Regions from separate parts of the Homo sapiens genome. Here all the other regions are linked to region 2. The links come from fine-mapping of genetic effects on gene expression. A gene starts in region 2. Each other region holds a variant in brackets. All regions are shown on one strand. Distances are between the middles of the regions.

What was found. PIP is the estimated chance that this variant, and not a neighbour inherited with it, causes the effect.
Region 1: its variant is the best candidate, but not a certain one, in a credible set for the expression of SPTLC2 in tibial nerve (GTEx, PIP 0.54).
Region 3: its variant is the best candidate, but not a certain one, in a credible set for the expression of SPTLC2 in whole blood (TOPMed, PIP 0.87).
Region 4: its variant is the best candidate, but not a certain one, in a credible set for the expression of SPTLC2 in whole blood (INTERVAL, PIP 0.75).
Region 5: its variant is the best candidate, but not a certain one, in a credible set for the expression of SPTLC2 in whole blood (INTERVAL, PIP 0.63).
Region 6: its variant is the best candidate, but not a certain one, in a credible set for the expression of SPTLC2 in lung (TOPMed, PIP 0.52).

What each region holds. Positions count from the first base shown.
Region 1 is chr14:77,517,118-77,521,206 of GRCh38, forward strand. SPTLC2 (serine palmitoyltransferase long chain base subunit 2) reads right to left here. Exons shown (of 12, transcript NM_004863.4): 11 at 921-1,050. Among named protein-coding and RNA genes, the nearest start is that of ISM2, 20 kb to the left of the region's middle. The variant C/T (reference allele first, on the strand shown) is at 1,774.
Region 2 is chr14:77,614,085-77,618,173 of GRCh38, forward strand. SPTLC2 (serine palmitoyltransferase long chain base subunit 2) reads right to left here and starts at 2,553. Exons shown (of 12, transcript NM_004863.4): 1 at 2,364-2,553. The coding sequence starts at 2,495. RefSeq lists enhancers at 1,810-2,019, 2,348-2,880 and silencers at 2,200-2,399, 2,540-2,589, 2,920-2,979.
Region 3 is chr14:77,557,020-77,561,096 of GRCh38, forward strand. SPTLC2 (serine palmitoyltransferase long chain base subunit 2) reads right to left here. Exons shown (of 12, transcript NM_004863.4): 7 at 22-127. Among named protein-coding and RNA genes, the nearest start is that of SPTLC2, 58 kb to the right of the region's middle. The variant A/G (reference allele first, on the strand shown) is at 1,564.
Region 4 is chr14:77,523,430-77,527,518 of GRCh38, forward strand. The region is part of intron 9 of SPTLC2 (serine palmitoyltransferase long chain base subunit 2); the gene reads right to left. Among named protein-coding and RNA genes, the nearest start is that of ISM2, 27 kb to the left of the region's middle. The variant A/C (reference allele first, on the strand shown) is at 1,819.
Region 5 is chr14:77,510,545-77,514,623 of GRCh38, forward strand. It overlaps SPTLC2 (serine palmitoyltransferase long chain base subunit 2), which reads right to left. Exons shown (of 12, transcript NM_004863.4): 12 at 1-1,859. The coding sequence ends at 1,740. Among named protein-coding and RNA genes, the nearest start is that of ISM2, 14 kb to the left of the region's middle. The variant A/C (reference allele first, on the strand shown) is at 1,734.
Region 6 is chr14:77,504,578-77,508,660 of GRCh38, forward strand. SPTLC2 (serine palmitoyltransferase long chain base subunit 2) reads right to left here. Exons shown (of 12, transcript NM_004863.4): 12 at 1,420-4,083. Among named protein-coding and RNA genes, the nearest start is that of ISM2, 7.8 kb to the left of the region's middle. The variant T/C (reference allele first, on the strand shown) is at 2,176.

The DNA.
Region 1 (4,089 bases), 97 kb before region 2:
TGCCTGTAATCCCAGCTACTCAGGGGGCTGAGGCAGAATTGCTTGAACCCAGGAGGCAGAGGATGTGGTGAGCTGAGATCACGCCATTGCACTCCAGCCTGGGCAACAAGGGCAAAACTCTCTCTCAAAAAAGAAAAAAAAAATTAGTAGCTCTCTAACTCATTAATGGATATTTCTAGCAACTAATTTTATGCAAATGTCATGTTCTAAAGCTTTATAAACTCCCAGATGGCAATAATGATTTAAACTCTGAAATCTTAGACTTGCAACAATAACATATTAAGAGAATATATAGAGATGAGAATATCTTGAGATAATAAATAATTAAGCTTAGTAATAATGATCCCCAACTAGATGCCTGGCAGTGTGGTGGGTGCTGGGATATAGAATCAGTAAAACAGACTTATTCCTATCCTCAATATTTATCTAATGGAGAAGACTGCTATTAAATAATTATAGGTGTGAAGAATTTAGTAAGGGAGAATCTCAGGATTCCAAGGGAACACAGAGCAAGAAGGTGTGGGGCGCCCCTGAGCAATTTTCCTTTAAATGGAGATGTGAAGAATGAGTGGCAGTCAGCCAGGCAGAGGGGAGAGAAAGCTCAAGAGAGAAAATTTTAGACAGAACAACATATGAGAAAGCTTAATGTAGAAATAGCTAGAGTGGAAAGAGAATTGTAGAGTCCATAGTGAGGGAGACAGTAGAGCAAGACAAAGCCGGAAAATTCTCCAGAGCTCTCATGATGCAGGTGTGGTGGGTGACAGTTTTTTTGTAAATGCCAATGTTTTTGGTAGCACTGTCACCCCCTCTGTCTTAGGTGCTCACAAGAACATCAAGATCAATATATTATGAATTTCATCTAATATACAGGCCCTTTTAATAAAAGGCATATTTATATCAAGGTGAAAGTGCCTACTTACAGTATCAAGTATTTCTTTGGTATGAGCTGCTGACAGGCAAAACCTGGCTCTGGACTCAATAATTGGGGTGGCAGGAAATCCAACCACAACGACACCGATGTTCCGCTTCAGCATCTCCCGTCCAAAGGCGCTGCAAAGGGGAAAACAAGAACAGAAACCAGGAGGAGTGAAAAAGCACTCATTACAGAGGACCTGCTGTCCTCAAAGATTTCAACTCTTTGGTGATGCAGGCATTGGAGACTTCTAATAGGAGTTTCCTTTAACTCCTTTTAAAGTTAAAATTGACAGCTCACAAATACTTTTAAAGTCAATCCTAAAGCAGTCTTCTCCTATATGGTGTCCTTCACAAAACTGAAATAACCAGCCTGGGCAACATGGTGAAATCCCGTCTCTACCAAAAATACAAAAAATTAGCTATGTGTGGTGGCATGCACCTGTAGTCCCAGCTACTCAGGAGGCTGAGGCATGAGAATCTCTCGAAGCTTGGAGGCAGAAGCTGTAGTAAGGCAAGATCACACGACTGTACTCCAGCCTGAGCAACAGAGCAAGGCTCTGTCTCAAAAAAAAAAAAAAGTGTCCCTGATATGTAATAGTGGTTCAGAGGCTTCAAAATGAACCTGTATTTAATTAAAATCTGGTCCTTGAAATGTTAAGCTTGGCAGTTTAACATTAATCCGCAAATTCTGAGGATTCTGCAGCTGTGGGGGATCTGCTGTAACACGGCACATCTTTTCTGCTAGCAGAATGGCTGACTGGCATGAGCTCTCCAGATCACACGTTTCTTTAATTGTCTTGGGAACAACACTGCTTCAGAATTCAGGGCTTCCTTTGGTGTCTGTCAGGCCAGTTCACC[C/T]GCTGGCTTCAGCTGATTACTCAGACCACACAATTCGTATTTAACAATCCCCCACCCCTATCGTAAGCCAAATTGGAGGCCCTGTGGCCTTACTCCACATCTGTATCTTGTCTAAATAACACATTCTAACTTTTAGTTAATTTTGTCTACTAAATTATGTGGGTTTTTTTTTGAGTCTCTCGCTTTGTCGCCAGGCTGCAGTGCAGTGGCACGATCTTGGCTCACCATAACCTCCACCTCCCAGATTCTAGCAATTCTCCTGCCTCAGCCTCCCGAGCAGCTGGGATTACAGGTGTGCACCACCACACCCAGATGATTTTCGTATTTTTAGTAGAGACGGGGTTTCACCATGTTGGCCAGGATGGTCTCGATCTCCTGACCTTGTGATCCACCCACCTCGGCCTCCCAAAGTGGGATTACAGGTGTGAGCCACTGTGCCTGGCCCAAATTATGTTGCTTTTTGTCTTTTCCTCTTATTGACCTCCCTTATGTTTCAACTTTTCCTTTAAGCTGTTTACAGCATTTGTTTGAGAATAAAAAAATGTGGCCGGGCCAGTGGCTCGTGCCTGTAATCCCAGCACTTTGGGAGGCCGAGGCGGGCAGATCACCTGAGGTCAGGAGTTGGAGACCAGCCTGGCCAACATGGTTAGACCCCATCTCCACTAAAAAATACAAAAATTAGCCAGGTGTGGTGGCACACATCTGTAATCCCAGCTACTGGGGAGGCGGAAGCACAAGATTTGCTTGAACCTGGGAGGTGGAGGTTGCAGTAAGCCGAGATCACGCCATTGCACTCCAGCCTGGGCTATACAGATCCTGCACATTTGGCATTACATTAATGCCAGTCTTTTCACAGCCTTTTCCCACTCTCTGTAGTACCAGTACATCTTCCTCAACATACCTCCTTTGTGTCAGCATGAACCTGGGTGCCCTGTATCTTCAGCACATGCTCCCAAACTGTCTAGTGCCTTATTCTAATTCTTTACCTTCTCTAAATCTTTTTTTTTTAACTTCTTAAATGCACAAATTTATTTTTTCTCAACAAACACACATCTTAATGCCTTTACAACTTTTATCTCCCCAAATATACCTTGCTTTTCTTTATACATGCTGTATACAGAGTTGTTTTCCTTATATTTAGTAGTTATTGCTTTTTTGTGCCCTTTTGGGTCCTGTACCTTCTCTAAATCTTTCCTAATTAAAGTGTACACAGTCAGTTGCACCTATGTAGAATAAAGGAGACACAGCCTTCTTTAAAGAGAGCTCTAGACTGAGTCCTTTGGATCTGATAACTCTTCATGTTTGTTTATGAGAATTCCACTTAAAGAAGAATGAAGAAAATCCTTCCCCATCCCCTCTGAAGCCATAATACCAACTGCCCATATGACTTCATGTTGAAACCCAAATTCTTCTTTTTCTCTCAGGGAGCACCTTTTCCTTACTTCCCTTTCATTCTCTTTGAATCACATTACTTCCAGGTTCCCTGATTTAATTTCCTCTCCCATATTCATTTCAGTAAACATTTACTGAGTGTCGGAGACTGTGGTGGACACTGGGGATTCAAAAATTTACAAAAATTGCTCCTTCAATGAGTTCAATCAAACTGGAGAAATGCTTTAAGATCCAGCTCAAAACTCACCCATCCAACAAGATGTGCCTTTCTTACTGAGCCTATACTAAGCAGGTCACTCCTTTATTCTACATCTTCAGGGCCACTTTGCATATAATAAAATTTGTTCAGTATAATTACTGTTCATTTGCTTTTCAAATGTCTTCTGGTTTCATTATACATCTGGACTTCTCAAATACATTGAAAGCTATCCTAGGGCAGGGCTTTCCATTATGTATGCCTCATACAAACCAAAGAAGCTGGTGTAATCTGCACACCTGGTAAGTATCCAATAACACACTCTGATAAAACCTCTCTGACCTCATGGCCCACTGCTCGCCCTGGGGCACGGTGCTCCAATTCCAGGGACCTCTTTGCTACTCTTCCGTCAGCTAAGCAAGCTCGCTTCTGTACTGTGGCCTTTGCACAGATGCTTCTTTCTCCAGTGGCTGTCAGCTCCTTCAAATCTTTGCTCAGATGTCATTTTCCTTCCCAAGGAGGCTTCCTTACCCTGACCACCCTATTTAATAGTGTTATCGGCCCGCCCACAGGGCACTCTCAACTCCCCATATAGGTCCTGCTCTATTTTTTTCCATAGCACTTGACACCTTCTAACATCGTACACAGTTCATTTGTTTATTATGTCTGTCTGACTGTTGCCCCCTACTAGACTGTAAGCTCCACAAGGACAGAGATGTTTGTATTTT
Region 2 (4,089 bases):
TGCCTTGAGTGAAACTTTTACAAAACATGTCCCCAAAAGTCAACCAAATGTTATTCATACAGATTTTAAAATGTCATGTTAGTACCTTGATATTTCTTCACCTTATTAGTTGGCAAGCTCTGAAGAAATATCATTCTATAAATGCTAAATTGTTAGAGATTATGGGAGAAAGGTCCTTGATTTCCTACTAAATCTGAACATAACTCATAGGGATTGAAAGAAGCATTTGAACACAAAGCAACGCTGAAGTGTGAACACCTTTCTCTTGACTTCCTTTTTCATTTTAAAAAATCATACCGGCCAGGTGCAGTGGCTCACACCCGTAATCCCAGCACTCTGGGAGGCCGAGGCAGGCGGATCACGAGGTCAGGAAATCAAGACCATCCTGGCTAACACAGTGAAACCCCGTATCTACTAAAAATACAAAAAATTAGCCGGGCGTGGTGGCGGGTGCCTGTAGGCCCAGCTACTTGGGAGGCTGAGGCAGGAGAATGGCGTGAACCTGGGAGGTAGAGCTTGCAGTGAGCCGAGATCGCGCCACTGCACTCCAGCCTGGGCGACAGAGCGAGACTCCATCTCAAAAAAAACCAAAAAAACAAAAAAAATCATACCTCGGCCTGGTGCGCCTGTAATCCCAGCACTTTTGGAGGCCAAGGCAGGCCAATCACCTGAGGTCAGGAGTTCGAGACCAACCTGGCCAACATGGTGAAACCCCATCTCTAATAAAAATACAAAATTTAGCCGGGCGTGATGACGGGCGCCTGTAATCCCAGCTACTCGGGAGGCTGGGGCAGGAGAATCGCTTGAACCCAGGGGGTGGAGGCTGCAGTGAGCCGAGATCGCGCCATTGCACTCCAGCCTGGGTGACAAGAGCAAAACTGTCTGAAAAAAAAAAACAAAAACAAAAACAAAAAAAAAATCATACCTCAATGAAATTCACCTGCAAATGTATTTTCTAACTCCTACCCGTTAAATTTCCCTATTACATTCTATACCACAACAATTTTGTCTTATAAGTCGTTTACATTGCTAGGAAAACGACAAACTATTCCACTGCTTATAATGAGCTGACTGTTATCACTTCCTCCCTCACACAATTATTTCTTTAAAAGTGAAAACAAATCTTTTGATCTGTGTATTACTTCGCTTTGACACCTTACAACTTCAGGGGAGGTCAAGTCTGCTTTACTTATTTTTCCCCTCAACTCAGTCTCAATATCTCAACATGACCTGGAAAAATGCTTTATTTTCTGCTTCGCAGCAAACAGTAACAGACCTATCCATCATAACTACTCATCTGGGGAGTAGTTATGTTAAAGCCAAATTAAGATCACCATCCTATCAAACTGCAACAGTCACACTCCCGCTAAAGGGAAACAGAGTACTTTCTAAGCGTTCCTTAATATCTGTACAAGACTTAAACGTATTAAAGTCAACTGCAAAATTATCGCAACACTCTCTTCCAGGAACACCGATCTTGCATCTTTTTAACCAGCTCATCTTTAAAAACACATTTCAACAGAATATCTGTCAGTCCAGACCACTGTAAGGTTGATAATAAGCATTGTCTTGAATTTAGAACTTTTCAAAATATTTTAGAACTGCCTGAACTTGGTTGATGATTCAGCATGGTTAATTAGTATAGAGTCATCGCAAGTCACCACCAGGCTAAACAATCCCCTTGTGTGATAGCACTCGTGTTCAGGAAAGGGTCGAAGGGGCCACCTAATCCAACCTGGAGCCTGGGGTAGAGTCTCACCACCGGCAGAGTTAAGAGAATGATGCTTTCGAGGGACCAGCTTGGATTCCCTGCCAGATCTATGGACCAATGTCCTGGTTGGGGACTGAACGTGGTAGTCCAGAATGTGGTTGGGAGAGGCTGGGTGTGTTTCCATCTGACACCACCGCCTAATTTTCTTTGCTTCTTAAGGACCCCATGGGTGGTTTTCTTTGGACGACTGCAGGACTTTAAAAGGAAGCAATAACCTCAGGGGTTTGAGAAGGGACCCTCCGGAGCCCTTGGGCGGCTCCCACTGGAGTCCGAAGGGCCCCTCATCGCTTCCCCTGGGGACAGCACACACTTCTGGCAGAATGGGGCAGAGAAAAGTACCCGGAGCTCTGAGCAGAACCCAGAGCTCCGGGAGTAAGACCTCCAGGCGCGGAGAGGTGGGGAGCCCCCGAGCCGTCCTTGAGCCTCCAGGCTCGTGGAGGTCGGGCCAGCGGCCGGACACTGCCGCCCACACCTGCGAACGGCGCCCGCCCCGCGGATTGCCCAGCGGATGGCCCGGAGACCTCGCCCCGCCCGGCCGCCCCTCCGCCAGTCCACACCGCCACCCCGGCCCCGCCGCGCGGGCCCCTCGTACCTGGCCGGCGGCGGCTGCGGCTGCGGCTGCAGCGCTGCTCCTCACGTACCCGTTCCGTACTTCCCCGTTCGCCACGCAGCCATTCGCCCGCACCGTGCGGCGGCAGCAGCAGCCTCCGGGCTCCGGCCGCATCTTCCTGGCAGCACCAGGCGCAAGGCAGGCTCTGTAGGCGGTGGCAGCGGCGGCGGCTGCTCCAAGTCCCGCTCCGCACCCCACCCACCTCCCCGAAACCGGAAATGGCTGCAGCGCCGCCGCCAATTCCCGGGCGGGCCTTCACAGAGGGCGGGGCCCTCTCCGCAGAGGACCGGTCTCGGCCAAGGCCACGCAGCGAAGGGAAAAAGCGGCGGGGACCTGCCGAGAGGGATGTGGTCCTGAGGACCGCTGACCAATCTGGAAGAGAAGGAGGCGGACCCCATGCTGCTGCCTGGCCAATCACGGACGAGAGCAAAGCGCCTCGCCGGTGGAGAGGGGGCTTCTCTAGAGGGACTCCAGGGCCTGGCACCTGATTGGAGGCCGCATCCAGGTCCGGGGTAGGGCTTGCCTGTTTAATGGTCCAGACCGAGGAGGAGGCGGAGCCCAGGGAAAAGTAGCCAATTAGAGTGTGAGGAAATAAAAGGGGCTGAGCCGAAGTCTCTAGAGCGGGTTCCCAGGTTCTCCAGGACAGGTGGCGCCCTCTTTGCCCTTGCCTCGTGGGAAGTTTTGGAGTTTATGTCCTAGCCCAAGACAGGCAGCTCGCTTATTTAATTAGCTGATTCCTCTGTGAGTGTTTATAGAATAGATTTTTTGACAATCTCTCATCATTCTTCAATATGCGCCACACATTCACTATTTCTGAATTATTATAAGTAATAATTCAGATGCCTTTTCACGTGCCCTTCACATTTGCCCTTGGCAGGGTTTTCTATACAGTCTCCTTTAAATTAAGTCTTTCCTTCAAAGTTAGAAAACCTGGTCTAATTCCAACTCTGCCAATAACTGGAAGCTAAAACTTGAGCACTGTGTTTAACCACTTTAGAAGCCAAATTCTTTAAAATGGAGTTAATACTTCCTGCTTCATAGACTTACAGCAAGAATTATATCATTAACCCATTATGCACCTCTTATAATACTAGGCTTATAGTAGGAGTATAATAAATATTATTTTCTCACCCTTTTAGTTCCATCTTCCCATGGGGTTAGAAAGCAAGGAAATTGATCTACATTACAATTAGAGACTTTCTGTTATCCATAAAGAATTTAGTATCATAATTGAGAGTATGGACTCTGGAGTCGGTCTGGGTTTTAAATCCTAGCTGCGCCACTTACTAGCTGAGTGACCTCTATGTGTCTTCATCTGTTCAGTGGGGACAATAATAGTTGTCGTGAAGATTGAATAAGTTTATGTATGTAATGTATTTTGTACAGGACCTAGCAATTAGTAAGCATTCATTAAGTGTTGGTTACTAGTAATTGCTAAATGCACCTATGAGAATCCGTGCATTCTTTCCCCACCCTGCAGGAGCTTTAGAAAGGAGGTCCACAAGGTATTGGTTTTGCATGACTTAGGAGCTGAATAATCTAACAGAAGGTGGGATCATTCATCCCACACATCCTATTTGAGTTGACAAACACTATTGATCCCAAAGTGAATATACATCTGTATGTATAAGGCTAAAAAGGAAACATGTGGCTGTGCTTCATGGAGCTTACATTTCAGTGAGAGACAAGATATACACATAGAAAGAAA
Region 3 (4,077 bases), 57 kb before region 2:
AGAATAATAAAGCAGGATTACCTATATATTCCTTCCACAAGGATGAGAATTTTCTTCCAGGGCCTTCGTGTCCGAGGCTGACCATAAACAATGGCATCTTTCAATAGCTTCTCTAGGCTTTGCATATCTACAGAGCACAAAAAAGAACAGTTATACCGCATCTTCCTCTTTCCTAACTTTATTCCGGAAATGCAGAGATATATTTCTCATTCAGAAACCATGCCTCAGATAGCAAAGGACATAATTAGAGTTGGGCAGAAAAAAGCAGGGCAAAATAGGTGAATTATTGCCACCTTGAATTGAAATCCAAAATGTAACAAATGTTCAAAACCATCGAAACTTGACTAAAGGACGGTGGTGGCTAACTCAGTTCATTAGCTTCCTTATAAAATGACCAGTGTCTCATGTTAAATACCCTGCCATTAAGTTAGCTTCTGTGTGTTTATCGAAAAATACAGAATCAAACTGTATCTCTAATCCCAGTGAGTCATTCGGAAATAAATGCGTAAAAAAGACAGAGCGAGAGAGTGTGAATAAACCATCACAGACACATACTCCTCCTAAAAAAACAAACGCAAGGCGTAAAAAAACTTCACAGTGCGTGCTCCATTTCCTTTCACCCAGGACGTACTCAATAAACGCTTGTTAAAGAGTTTTATTTTGGTACTGGGTTAAAAATACACCCGTCTGGGGCATGTATAAGTCTGTGTGTTAAGCAAGCCTGACAATCAGTTGAAATTGTTCCATGTTTGACTTCATCAGTTGTCCATAAACAACCAAGTTCTTGTGGCTCTGTTGGTTCTTATGGTGGTTAATGGGCCTGGAAACAACTTGGCTGCTACTGCCATTAATGATGATCATAATTTCCTTGTTAAAGACAAATGCTTTGAAGACCATTGTTGCCACACTACAGATTTCATACTTAAAATACCTGCCCTGAAATGAAGTCCTTAAAAAAAACTCCCCCAAATTTAAGCAACATTAAGTCTGGGGAATACTTAATAGGGGTGGGAGACATCCTATCATAAAATCTTTTTTTTTTTTTTGAGATGGAGTCTCCCTCTGTCATCCAAGCTGGAGTGCAATGGTGTGATCTCTCCTCACTGAGGCCTCCACCTCCAAGGTTCAAGCAATTCTCCTGCCTCAGCCTCCCAAGTAGCTCGGATTACCAGCACCCGCCATCACGCCAGGCTAATTTTGTACTTTTGTAGAGACGGGGTTTCACCATGTTGGCCAGGCTTGTCTTGAACTTCTGACCTCAGGTGATCCGCCTGCCTCGGCCTCCCAAAGTGCTGGGATTACAGGCGTGAGCACCACGCCTGGCCCTATCATAAAATCTGATTTTGTATTCTGTATTGCTTGTAACTGGAGGAAGGAGTTATAAAAGTACATGATTTTGCTCTTTGCAGAAAACAATTTTGACAGAAAAAGAGATAAGGTAATAAAAACACAGAACACAAACACAAATAAGATAGTCTAAGGTTGTGACTGTGCTTACACATTCAGTAATTTCTAAGAAAAAAATCTGCATACGACCTAATCAAGATTCAGGAGATGTTCCCT[A/G]CAGAAGTAAATTACGTCCTGACTCAAAGCCTCCAGTTTTTTTGTTTTTTTTTTTTTGAGACAGAGTCTTGCTCTGTCGCCAAGGCAGGAGTGCAGTGGCGTGATCTCTGCTCACTGAAACCTCCGCCTCCTGGATTCAAGTGATTCTCCAGCCTCAGCCTCCTGAGTAGCTGGGATTACAGGTGCATGCCACCACATCCAGCTAATTTTTGTATTTTTAGTAGAGGTGGGGTTTCACCATTTTGGCCAGGCTGGTCTTGAACTCCTGACCTCAGGTGATCTGCCCTCCTTGGCCTCCCCAAGTCCTGCAAAGCCTCCAGTTCTTAGGCAGAGAGCAATGTATGGCGATCAGCTGAAGACAAGTAAAAACACAGGAATTATTTTAGTTTTCTCTGTTTATATATAGAAGGAGGAGAAAAATAATACTGGTCAAAATTTTAGATAAAAGAAGCATCAGCCAGGTGTGGTGGCTCACGCCTGTAATCTTAGCACTTTGGGAGACCGAGGCGGGTGAATCGCTTAAGGTCAGGAGTTCGAGACCAGACTGACCAACATGGCAAAACCCTGTCTCTACTAAAAATACAAAAAAAATTAGCCGGTTGTGGTGGTGGGCACCTGTAATTCCAGCTACTTGGGAGGCTGAGACATGAGAATCGCTTAAACCCAGGAGACGGAGGTTGCAGTGAGCCAAGATCACGCCACTGCCCTCCAGCCTGGGTGACAGAGCAAGACTGTTTCAAAAAAAAGAAATACCTATAGCAGAATGCTTAACCATATTATCTACTTAGAAAAAAAAATTCAATCTCTCCAATGTTATGCCCCCAAATTCCACATAAATTTAAATAAAAAATATATCGCAAAACTCCCAGAAGAAAACATGAAAGAATAACATTATGATCTGAGAATGAGGAGGGTATTGTGTAAAATCCGAAAGTCGTAAAACAGTAAGTGTGGCAACAAAAACATTTTCATGAGTCTGTACAGGAAGACACTGAAAACAAAGTCAAAAATATAAAAATAGTGCAGTCTGGGCATGGTGAATCACTCCTGTAATCCCAGCATTTTGGGAGGCTGAGACAGCAGGATCGTTTCAGCCTAAGAGTTCAAGACCAACCTGGGCAACACAGCGAGACTTTGTCTCTATAAAAAATAAAAAACACTAGTCCGGCATGGTGGTGGATGCCTACAGTCCTAGCTACTCAGGAGACTGAGGCAGGAGAATCATTTGAACCTAGGAGGTCAAGGCTGTGGTGAGTTGTGGTTCTGCTACTTCACTCCAGCCTGGGTGATGCAGCAAGACCCTGTCTCAAAAAAATAATAATAAAATAATGCAACATAAAGGAAAAGATAATTAATATAAAGGGCTCTTATAATCAGTAAAAAATAGAAACAATTTGAAAATGGCCAATTTATAAAGAAATACAAACACATTAGCTTACAAGTAGAGTTAAAAAAACAGTAAAAATGCAAAAAGTTGTTCTATATCTAATAAGCAATGAAATAAAAACTAACATATTATTTCCTCATTAGATTTGGAAAGATTTAAAATGATTCACCATAGCCTATGTTGGCCAGTGAGTAGGAACAGTCAATCTCATGTTGTTGAGGAAAAATTCATACAAGATGCAAGCATGTGTATGTTCATTGTAGCACTATTCACAACAGCAAAGACATAGGATCAATCTAAATGTCCATCAACAGTAGACTGGATTAAAAAAATGTGGGCCAGGCGTGGTGGCTTATGCCTATAATCCCAGTACTGGGAGGCCAAGGTGGGTGGATTGCTTGAGCCCAGGAGTTCAAGACCAGCCTGGGCAACATGGTGAAACCCCATCTTTACAAAAAATACAAAAAGAAAACACAAAAAACAAAAAACAAAAAACTTGGCCGGGCGTGGTGGAACACATCTGTAGTCCCAGCTACTAGGGTGGCTGAGATGGGAGGATCGGTTGAGCTGGGGAGGTAGAGGTTGCAGTGAGCTGAGTTCATGCCAATGCATGCCAGCCTGGGAGACAGAGCAAGACTCTGTCTCAAAAATAAAAATAAAAATATATATATATATATGTACATATACACCATGGAATACTATGTAGCCATAAGAAAGAATGAGATCATGTCCTTTGCAGCAACATGGATGCAGCTAGAAGCCATTACCCTAAGCAAACTAATACAGGAACAGAAAACCAAATACCACATATTCTCACTTGTAAGTGGGAGCTAAACACTGAGTACATACAGACACGACTAAGGGAACAACAGACACTGGGGTCTACTTGAGAGTGAGGCAGGGGAGGTTGAGGAGGGTAAGGTTCGAAAAACTACCTACCTATCAGGTACTATGCTGATTACCTGGGTGGCGAAATAATCTGTACACAAACCCCCGAGACATGCAATTTACCTATATAACAAACCTGTACATGTACCCCTGAACCTAAAATAAAAGTGAAAAAAAAAAAGTTCATATAATGCTTAGAGGCAATTTGGAAAAGTATTAAAAATGTATACTCTTTTAAC
Region 4 (4,089 bases), 91 kb before region 2:
GGGAGGCTGCGGGGGCTAGAATTTGTTGGGCAGTGTACAGGAGCAGGGAGGTGGGGTGCGATGAGAGAGCTTTAGAGATCTGCTGAAGGGTCCCTTTGAACTTTGGGAAGGGTACTGATTTCTATACGCATGAAAAGAAACTAGCAGAGGCTGGGGAAAAGATCCATCAGAAAGCAATAGGCCAAACAATTCCTGCACTCACATGGAGCTGGGAATAGTTTGTATTTTTGTCCACCAAAATATAAAGATCTTATAATATGTGGGTTATCTAACAGAGTCCTCAGAAGGGGACTCTACTCCTATCACCTTAGTAGTGGAGATAAATGAACCCTAGACTAAAAATTGGTCTGAACCCACCCTAACCTTAAAAGCAAGCTTTGAAAGGATCCTACTGATTCCAAGAACAAAGTCCAACATTACCTAAAGGAAAACAACAAGATATAGAAACTAGCAATGTAAAATTAATGTCCAACATATAATTTTAAAATTCCAGGCATTCAAAGAAACAGGAAAATATGACGTACAACCAGGGGAAAAGTCAGTCAATAAAAACCGACCAAAAATAACGGAGTATTAGCAGATATGGATGTTAAAGGCCATTATAAATATGATCTATATGTTCAAAAAGGTAGAAGAAACATGAGGAGAGAAAGGAAATATATGAAAAGGAACAAATGATTGCTAAGGCAACAATGCTGATGAATCTCAAAATATAATGTTCATTGAAATAAGCCAGACATGAGACTGCACACTGTATGAATTCGTTTGTATGAAACTCTAAAAAGACATACTGTAATGACAGAAAACAGATTCATGGTTGCCAGAAAGTATGGGAAGGCGGCTGATAGCAAAGGGGCAGAAGGGAACTTCCAGGAGGGACGATGAAAATATTCTAACCTTGATTGTGGCATGGGATTACAGGAGTGAGCCACCATGCTGCCCAGCCACCACCTTTAAAAAAAAATCACAAACCTTTTAGCTATCTAATCACAAATTAACTAGCCTCTGTTAAAAAAAAAAAAAAAAGTTTTTTCAAACTAAAAATGGAACTACCATACAATCCAGCAATCCCACTACTGCTGTTTATCCAAATAAAAGGAAATCAGTGTATCAAAGGGATGTGTGCACAGCTATGTTTACTACAGCACTATTCACAAGAGCCAAATACGGAATCATTCTAAGTATCAGCGGATGAATGGATAAAGAAAATGTGGCAGATGCACACAACGGAATACTATCCAGCCATGAAAAGAATGAAATGCTGTCATTTGCACAAGATGGATGGGACTGAAGGTCATGATGTTAAGTGAAATGAGCCAGGCACGGAAAGACACGTATCGCATGTTCTGACTCATGTGGGAGCTAAAAAAGTTGATCTCATGGAGGTAGAGAGTAGAACAGTGGTTACCAGAGGCTGGGAATGGTAGGGAAAGGGGGATTGAAGAGAGGTTGGTTAATGGGTACAAACATATAGTTAGATAGGAGGAATAAATTATAGCTTTTGATAGCACAGGATGACTACAGTTAACAATAGTTTACCGTGTATTTCAAAATAGCTAGAAGAGCTGAAATGTTCTAAACACACAGAAATGATAATGTTTGCGGTGACACATATCCAAAATACTCTGATTTGATCAGAATATTTGATACCGTATGCATCTATCAAAATATCATATGTACCCCATAAATATTATGTATCAATTTTTAAAAAAAGGAAAGCCAGGCACAGTGGTGTGATTCTGGCTACTTGGGGGGCTGAGGCAGGAGGATCTCTTGAGTCAGGAGTTTGGGGCTGTAGTGAGCTATGACTGCACCTGT[A/C]AACAGCCACTGCACTCCAGCCTGGGTAACATAGTGTGAGACTCTGTCACTTACGAAAAATGAGCCAGGCACGGTGGCTCACGCCTGTAATCCCAGCACTTTGGGAGGCCCAGACAGGCGGACCACCTGAGGTTGGGAGTTTGAGAGTAGCCTGACCAAATGGAGAAATCCCATCTCTACCAAAAATACAAAATTAGCCAGGTGTGGTGGTGCATGCCTGTAATCCCAGCTACTCAGGAGGCTGAGGCAGGAGAATTGCTTGAACCTGGGAGGTAGAGGTTGCCGTGAGCGAGACTGCGCCATTGCACTCTGCCCTGGGCAATAAGAGTGAAACTCCGTCTCGAAAAAAAAAAAGAAAAATTAAAAAAATTTAAAAAGGAGGGCTGGGCATGGTGGCTCACGCCTGTAATCCCAGCACTTTGGGAGGCTGAAGCGGGCGGATCACAAGGTCAGGAGATCGAGACCATCCTGGCTAACACGGTGAAACCCCGTCTCTACTAAAAATGCAAAAACAAAATTAGCCGGGCGTGGTGGTGGGCGCCTGTAGTCCCAGCTACCTGGGAGGCTGAGGCGAGAGAATGGCATGAACCCAGGAGGCGGAGCTTGCAGTGAGCCGAGATTATGCCATTGCACTCCAGCCTGGGTGACAGAGACTCCATCTCAAATAAATAAATAAATATATAAAAATAAAGTGGCCTGTTATCCTTTAAAATTGCTAGGCTGAACCATCAAACTGCCAACATGCTACCATTTTTGACCTTAAAGCAGGAAATTTCTTATGGTTTAACTTACTAATTTCAAAGAGAATAACAGGAAAATAAAAGCAGTAAAATAAATGTAGACAAATCAGTAAGCCCTGGCATTTACACGTTAGAAAATAGTTATCCTTTGCTCTTAAAGTGAAACTGAATCTTAACAGACAACATAGTTACCCACTTTGACTTGAGTATCATATAAAATAGCAGTTAATATTTATGCAAGAAGACCAATTGCTATTTAACGCCAGTGTAGTAGCTCAGTCCCAAGGATTTTTCACTGCAGAGTTTCAGCAAGTATCTGGTCTAATACAGACTTGAAACAAAGAAGAAAGTTTAGCACTGTTTAAAAAAATACTGCTCTTAAGAAGTTTTTATCTTTGGCTCCGAAAGAACACAGATGGAAATATAAAGAGGTCAGAATTCTTTCCTACTTTTCAAACATAAATCTTTACTTTTAAGGGTGATAAAAAGCATAAAAGCAATTTGGAGGAGAAAAATCTGTACTGACTCTTGAATTTTACAAATAAACTTAACTGTGTGGCTGTCCTTTTGGACTTCAATATGGTTTGTTAGAATAAAACTATTTTTAGGAACTCTACTGTAAAAAAATCTACAGCTTGGCATGGAAGAGACAGAGAAAAGTAAATATGTAGTTAATTTCTTGGAAAATGTAGATAACTTTAACAGGTCATTTTTAGTCTTCAACCTCTTTACAATAAATCTTATTCTCAGGAAGGAAGGAATAGATATAAAAGATCAATATGCTGTAACAGCATCATTAGATTATTTAGTTCTTTTTTTTTTTTTGAGACAGAGTCTCACTCTGTTGCCCAGGCTGGAGTGCAGTGGCGTGCTCCTGGCTCACTGCAAGCTCCGCCTCCTGGGTTCACGCCATTCTCCTGCCTCAGACTCCCGAGTAGCTGGGACTGCAGCAACCCGCCACAACACCCGGCTAATTTTTTGTATTTTTAGTAGAGATGGGGTTTCACCATGTTAGGCAGGATGATGTCGATCTCCTGACCTCATGATCCACCTGCCTCGGCCTCCCAAAGTGCTGGGATTACAGGCGTGAGCCACTGCGCCCGGCCTCTTTTTTTTTTTTTTTAATTGAGATGGAGTGTCACTCTGTTGCCCAGGCTGCAGTGCAGTGGTGCGATCTCAGCTCACTGCAATCTCTGCCTCTCAGGCTCAAGCGATTCTCCTGCCTCAGCTTCCTGAGTAGCTGGGATTACAGGCAAGTGCCACCATGCCTGGCTAATTTTTTGTATTTTTAGTAGAGACAGGGCTTCACTTTGTTGGCCAGGCTGGTCTAAAACTCCTGACCCTCAACTGATCCATCGCACCAGGCCTAGATTTAGTTCTCTTAAGGAACTAGAAGGCCTTGAAAAGGATGGAGGGTAGAGGTTGAAGGAGCGCCACAATTATCTACCTACTGATAACCACTAGATATTGATAACCTTCAATCACGTTTACAAAACAGAATTAGATTTAGGGAACTACATTAATCACTGCC
Region 5 (4,079 bases), 100 kb before region 2:
TCACTGCAACCTCCGCCTCCTGGGTTCAAGCGATTCTCCTGCCTCAGCCTACCAAGTAGGTGGGATTATAGGTGCCCGCCACCACGCCCAGCTAATTTTTTGTCTTTTTAGTAGAGACGGGGTTTCACCATGTTGGCCAGGCTGGTCTTGAATTCCTGACCTCAAGTGAGCCACCTGCCTCAGCCTCCCAAAGTGCTAGGATTACAGGTGTGAGCCACCGCACTCGGCCTGTAACATGACTTTCATACACTGTTTTTCCATTCTGTTCCCAATCCTTCTCCTGTAATACTTGATGGATACAAAAAGACAAACTGATCCTGGGTATAATATGCCAAAAGTCCTCTTCACTTAAACTTTGGTTCAACTGAAAAAATAACTTTAAAATGGTGATTTTCAGATTTGTTCTTTGGTCAGGCAGTATAAAGCTCTCTGAAAGAAGTCCCTTTACCTGGTTATAGTATGAAAACAGTCAAAATAGAAAATGTCAGTTTAGGAAAGAGATCTATGTGTTCAGAATTTCTCAGAAAAAAATAAAAAATATGTAGACAGGCAGACCCTAGCCCCAGATGCCAGATTCAATTGACTTAGGACATCAAGAATAAAAGAGAACTAGCATTCAGAAGAGTAATATTTAAGTGGGTTAGCTTCTAAGAGGCCTAAATTAATAAACCTAATCCTTAAATAGGAACATGATAAATGCTTTCTGAGCAGAGGATTTACCAACAGTTTCCTTTATCAGTTTAAATCCTAATCTGGACCCAGACCTAGCCAGAGACTGTCATAATTTTCAAACGTAGAAAGCAGTAGGAAATGCAAGCCACAGGCTCTGCAAGGAGTAATCAATTCTTTGCACACTGCCACTGCCCCTGCCCCTCACCCACCAGGAGTGCACATCACTCTACGGAGCAGCTTTGTACCCAACACTCAGATGTGAGAGTGGCCTTCTCACCAGGGTGGGATATGGGTGCTCTGAAAACAGTAAGTGCTTTAAAAAGGGGGTGGGACGTGTTACGGTTAGAGCTTGGGAAGAACCAGAATTTGCGCACATCCTCAGACTGTGACCATTATGAAGAAGTATTTGATGGTAAAGGAAGAAATCATCTGGTGACCAGAAGAAAATGGAATAAGACCAAACCCTTGGGAGATTACACAATGAGCCTTTCAGCAGTCATCGCTTACTGTTTTTCTTAAAAGGCTAAACTTAAGATTAAAGGGTGAAAACTTCCGTTGATTACTTGAATGGTTAAATAAGGATTCCAAGGTTGGCCTTGAGACCTCTGAGACCTGGATGGGAAGTAAGTGGAAGGCACTTGCTCCCTAGGGAGGAGGGCCAGGTAAGTATCCAGGCTGCGGAGCCAGGGCCAGCAGTAGCTCTTGATGGGCCCAAGTCTGCAAGGTGCTGGGAGAGGGGAATGGCCTGTGTGGTTAGCCAGAGACAGGCTAGGGTCAGCGTGATTTCACAAGTAGAATGGTTGCAAAATAAAATGTTTTTTTAATGGACTGAAAAAGCAAAGTGAGTCACCTTCGTTTTTAAAGGTGAGATTTAGCAAAGGAAGGATTAGAAGCAGTTTTTTACTATTTACAAAATGTCATTTAGAGTGGAGGTGGCCACCTTCAGTAGCTGAGGCAATGTCTTTCACGTGAGATGGCCACAGAAGTGTGGTTCCTGGAACTGGCTCACAAAGGCCACAGGCTGTCCTGGGTGAGGGAGAGTTCCTCTGAGGGAGCACCAA[A/C]AAGGCTCAGTCTTCTGTTTCTTCATACGTCGTCTCGTCAAAGGGCCTGTCCAGTAGAGGTACCAACCGATGACGGGAATACTTCAGCTGCAATAGGTCCCCAACTTCATCTATCTCCTTTAAAGCCTAAAATACACAAGACAAAGTAGAGGTCTGTCAGAGCCAGTAGGATGCAGGCATGCCTGGTGTTTTACTTTGCTAAAAACAATCATGGCAAGATTATCCTTCGGCAGGACTTATGTCTAGTGCATTTACAAGATCAGACTACAATACAGCTGTGGAAGGAGCTGCTTTTTGAACAAGGCCTTCAAGCTCACCATGAATAATGGGTTGTGAATAGCCAGGTATGCAGAATAAAGGCTATAATTCAAAGTATGATATGCTTGGTAGAAAAAGTTATATGCACTCTGAACTTACAAAACCGAATACAATTTGTCATCTCTCCCTTTTGTTTTTGAGATGGAGTATCGCTCTGTTGCTCAGGCTGGAGTGCTGTGGCGCCCTCCGAGCTCACTGCAACCTCCACTTCCCAGGTTCAAGTGATTCTCCTGCCACAGCCTCCCAAGTAGCTGGGATTACAGGTGCCCGCCATCATGCTCAGCTAATTTTTGTATTTTTAGTAGAGATGGGGTTTCACCATGTTGGCCAGGCTGGTCTTGAACTCCCAACCTCAAGTGATCCACCACCTTGGCCTCCCAAAGTGTTGGGATTATAGGCGTAAGCCAACGAACCCAGCAACTTTTTTTTTTTTTTTTTTTTTTTTTTTGAGACAGAGTCTTGCTTTATTACCCAGGCTGGAGTACAGTGGCACCATCTCGGCTCACTGCAGCCTCTGCCTCCTGGGTTCAAGAGATTCTCTGCCTCAGCCTCTTGAGTAGCTGGGACTACAGGCATGTGCCATCACACCCAGCTAATTTTTGTCCAGACAGGGTTTTGCCATGTTGGCCAGGCTAGTCTTGAACTCCTGGCACCAAGTTACCCACCCACCTCTGCCTCCCAAAGTGTTAGGATTACAGGCATGAGCCACCACACCTGGCATCTTAAACTTCATTTTTTTAAAAAATCAGTGTTTGGAGAGAGAAAACCACCAGTATTACTGATGTATTGTAGCACAAGAAAAAATATTCTTCATTTCAAAATGTGAAAAATATAAAAGCAAATAAGAGCTGAACGTCAATGTGCTATCACAACAGCGGTACCTCTGAGAAGAGGTATAAGTGAAAGCTCCACATGGAAACAATTTAAGTCTGAAATTAAGCTGGGAGAACCCATCGACCATTTATTCACCTGACCTCTGTGACAAGATGTAATAATTTAAGACAAAAGTCAAAGCTGGCCGGGCGCGGTGGCTCATGTCTGTATAATTCCAGCACTTTGGGAGGCTGAGATGGGCAGATCACCTGAGGTCGGGAGTTTGAGATCAGCCTGACCAACATGGAGAAACCCTGTCTCTACTGAAAATACAAAATTAGCTGGGCGTGGTGGCACATGCCTGTAATCCCAGCTACTCGGGAGGCTGAGGCAGGAGAATCGCTTGAACCCAGGGGGCGGAGGCTGCGGTGAGTTGAGTTCATGCCATTGCCCTCCAGCCTGGGCAACAAGAGCAAAACTCTGTCTCAAAAAAAAAAAAAAAAAAGTCAAGGCTGAACACGGTGGCTCAAGCCTGTAATCACAGCACTTTGGGAGGCCAAGGCAGGCGGACTGCTTGAACCCAGGAGTTTGAGACCAGCCTGGGCAACATAGTAAGACCTCGTCTCTTAAAAGAAAAAAAAATTGGCAGGCATAGTCCCAGCTATGCTGGAGGCTGAGGTGGGACGATCCCTTGAGGCTGGGAGATGGAGGCTGCAGTGAGCCAAGATCATGCCACTGTACTCCAGCCTGGGTGACTGAGACCCTGCCTCAAAATAATAATAATAAGACAAAAGTGCACATGACTAAGATCACAAAGTAATGGACATTTATAAACTTTAGAAGAATCTAGAATTTTTTCATCAATGTAGAAAAGTAATCATTAGATAGAAAAAGAAATCCTCAGTAGCCCAAGGGGATCTAGATTACAAGATTTCCTTTGATCCCACTCCAAATATTTCAGACAAATCGGTGTCATGTGAATATAAGATGACATTCTAATGAGTGCTGACTCTTGTGTGGGGTATTTGGGTATGTTAGGGACAGGCAGCCATTACATGCATCGCCATTCATTAACAGTCTACACAGAACCTCTAGATCACAGGTAAGGTGGGTTTCTAGGAGAAAAACATGTATTCATTATAGAGCTGAGTAACCGAATCCTCTAGGACAGCCATCCTGCCGCTCCCCTGAGCCAATATCCTTGCGCTTCCCATT
Region 6 (4,083 bases), 110 kb before region 2:
CCTTTATCAAATACATGTATTCTGAATCTTTTACTCCAGCCTGGGGTTTGCTTTTCATTTTCAGTCTTTTGAAATTTTCATTTTGATCAAGTCCAACTTATCAATAATGCTTTTTGTGTCCTCAGAAATCATTCCTAAAGTCACAGATTTTCTCTTCTGTTTTCTTCTAGACATTTTATAGTTTTAATTTTTGTGTTCAGGTGATTTATTTTGAATTATTGTATATCTATGAGTTAAGGGTTGAAGGTCATTTCTGCCCATATGGATATTTAGTTGTTCTGGGACCATTAGTTGAATTATCTGTACTTTCCCCACTGGAACTACCTTGGCAACTCTGTTGAAAATCAACCAACCTTCTATGTGTGGGTCTATTTCTGGACTCTAGTATGTTTTACTGATCTACATGACTATCTTAATGCCAACAGTAGTGTCTTGATTACTGTAGCTTTACAGAAAGTCTTGAAATCAGGTAGTGTAAGTTCTTTTCCAAAATCGTTTGGACTATTCTAGGTCCTTTAGATTTCCATATAAACTTTATCAAATTGTCCATGTCTACAAAAACACTGAGAGTTATCTGTTTCCATACTTTAAACTCCTCACTGGGCCGGGTGTGGCAGCTCATGCCTGTCATCCCAGTATGTCAGGAGGCTGAGACGGGAGGATTGCTTGAGGCCAGGAATTCGAGACTGGGCAACACAGTGAAACTCTGTCTCCACTTTAGGTAATAATTTAAAAAATTTTTTAAAAACCCAGCCCTTTCACTAGTCTGACCCCCACCCCCTGCATAAGAGAAAGACCTCACCAAGATCTACAAAGCCCAGTGAGTCTGCCTCTACCACCTCCCCACTACCTCACCTCCCCACACAGTTTTTAATCAAGCTCCAACTGTACTTTATTTCAGACCCTCCACGTCCTCAGTTTTCTCTCTCACCCCTGTCTAAACCAGATCATGGTTACTGTCTTTTTTTTTTTTTTTTGAGACAGTCTTGCTCTATTGCCCAGGCTGGAGTGCAGTGGTGTGATCTTAGCTCACTATAACCTCTGCCTCCAGGTTCAAGCGATTCTCGTGCCTCAGCCTCCCAAATAGCTGGAATTATAGGCACGTGCCACCATGCCTGGTTAATTTTTGTATTTTTAGTAGAGACGGGATTTCGCCATGTTGGCCAGGCTGGTTTCAAACTCCTGACCTCAAGTGATCCACCTGAAGTGCTAGGATTATAGGCGTGAGCCACCGCGCCCGGCCTGGTTACTTTTACCAAGCTCTTTACTTTTCCTCCATAGCACTTAACAGTTTGTAAAATGACATGTATGTTCATGTGCTTATCTGTTTACTAGCAAGTAGGAACCACAAAGCTCAGTGTGCTGCCCATCAGAGAGATAGCACTCAATATGTATTGGTTGAATGAATAAAGGCAGATATATCTTTCTGAATATTTTATTAGGGCAAAACAAGATATTTGCATGGGATGCTTCTTAAGTCATCTCAAGTAGTTCCCCTTCAGTTCTTAACATGCACTCTCAAAATCAACACACCTACCCCAACCCAATACTCATCGCTTCACAGTCATCCAGTAAAGTACAAAATAAAAATAAAAAAATCATCATCTGGCAAAAAAGGGAAACAGGGTAAGAGAGAGTGACATTTTAACACATTACTAAAATGTTTAAGCTTTTATTTACACATCCCCTTCTCTCAGTTTCCCAGGTTATATGAACATTACAGCAATAGAAAGGGGTTATCATCACAGCATCCCCTTGCAAATTCCAGTTTACAGGTAACTTGGTCAGGGGAAAAATATGGGTCAACGAAGTAAGATCTCAGCTCTCCCATAAGCTATTGCTCTCTTCTTCTCTTTCCCCCTTCTCTTAATGTTAGCTGCCTGTTACAGAGAGGGATCATCAAGACTGTGTGGACATGCTAGCTGAATTGACAGGGTGGGTTCCAGTGTCCTGTGAAGAACCAGCAAGGATGCTTTTTATAATTCCAACCATTGGCTTCACATCACTGAGGTAACAAGACTTAATGTTAAGGGTAAAGACACCACGCCACCCTAGTCAGTGACATGTACTCCACTTTCCAGGAAGACCTGGGCCAAATGACCAAGCTTTGCAAAAGAAACCTGGGAAGAGCGTTGGAAAAAGCAGACTCTGAGTTGGCTTGAGTCTCCTCGTGCA[T/C]AGAAGCATTCACTCATCCATGCAGATGGCAACAAGGCAGGACACTCAGAAAGCATAAGATCAAGGTACTGCTCTTATCTGCACCTTTCATTCAAGCTCCCCTCAAGTGCTCCAAAAGAACAGAGCTTTGGGTATTGCTTCATTAAGAACACAGTAACTGCAGTTTAAAAGCCATTGCATTCTTTAGGGTCAGTTTATTATAACTTATCCTACCAGAAAGAATCACAGTTTAAGGCCATTTATCATGTGCACTATGTAGTAAACAAAACCTTGTCCCCAGCTCCACCAAGCCACTCCCAAGGGTGGACTGTGAATGTGACACTTCCAGACTCACCAGAGATTAGAAAAAACATTTCTATTAGGGTCTTAACCTAGCCCCTTTGGTTTCCTCCCTAGAAAAGAGCTGCTTAGAAAACAGATGTCACTGGAAATGACAAAAGGAACAACAGTATTTTCTATACATTAAAAGCAAAGGGATCATTGGCTAGCACTAGCATTTATTCTGTGTGATAGGGAAGCCAGCCCTCTAATTTGGCTCTCTGGCTGGGCACATGGCAATGGCTAGGGGCCTGGGCACACCTTTTTTTTTTTTTTTTGAGACAGAGTCTCCCTCTGTCGCCAAGGCTGGAGTGCAGTGGTGTGATCTTGGCTCATTGCATCCTCTGCCTCTTGGGTTCAAGCAATTCCTGTGCCTCAGCCTCCTGACGTAGCTGGGATTACAGGCATGTGCCACCATGCCCGGCTAATTTTTGTAATTTTAGTAGAGATGAGGTTTCGCCATGTTGGCCAGACTGTTCTCGAACTCCTGGCCTCAAGCAATCTGCCTGCTTCAGCCTCCCAAAGTGTTGGGATTACAGGTGAGCCACTGCGCCCAGCCATGGGCACATATTTCATGTGGATAAAGTTGAGGCGAGAAAAAGACATGTTTTTCTCCACATGGAAGGTATTTTTTAAACTGGTTTAATGTATTAAGATGGCTGCTGGGCACTGAGCATCCACGTGAAGCAAGTAGCAGGGTATCTGTAGGTTCTGGGACTGAAAAAAAAAATCCCTGTAAGTTCTTGGCTTAGTAGCCAAAAAATAATCTTTGCTTTTTATACCTCCCCATTCACAACCCCTTTGGGCTAAGCTGATTTAAAAAACATTTTTTTCTTAGATGGGGTCTTGCTGTGTTGCCCAGGCTACGCTCAAATTCTTGGGTTTAAGCAATCCTCCGGCCTCAGCCTCTCAAGTAGCTGGGATTGCAGGCTGCATCCGCACCCAGCTCCTAACAATTTTTTTTCCCCCTCTTATTGAGCCAGGGTCTCACTCTGTCACCCAGGCTGGAGTGCAGGGGTGCAATCATGGCTCACTGCAGCCTTGACCTCCCAGGCTCAAGTGATTCTCCCACACAGGTGGGACTACAGGCAGGCACCACCATGCCCGGTTAATTTAGAAAAAAATTTTTGTAGAGACAGGGTCTATCTTGCCCTGGCTGTCCTAACAATTCATAATCTTCATGAATGTGGACAGTTTGAAGGAAAACCACTACTCTCACCTCTTTTTCTAAGCACACGGTTATAGCAAGTAGAGATTAAAGCTCATTGGCTTACCTAGAACACCAAGAGAGGAAAGATACCTTGGGAATTAGGTCATAGCAATGCTTCAAACAACAACTGCCCATAACCCTACAAATCCTTGCAAAACAACAGTTACTCACATTCTTTCTTCACGGCCTACGGCATGACTGGCAGTTCTGCACTGTTGCCCAATCCCGGATCACTAGGAACCAGAAATCCTTATCAATTTGGAAAAAGGGGAAAAACATAAAAGTAGTGGTAAATGTCATCACTTTTTTCCTCCCTGAGAAATCAGGAAATCTCTCCATGGAAGCCACTCATCCCCCTGGTTTTCACCAATAAGAAGGAA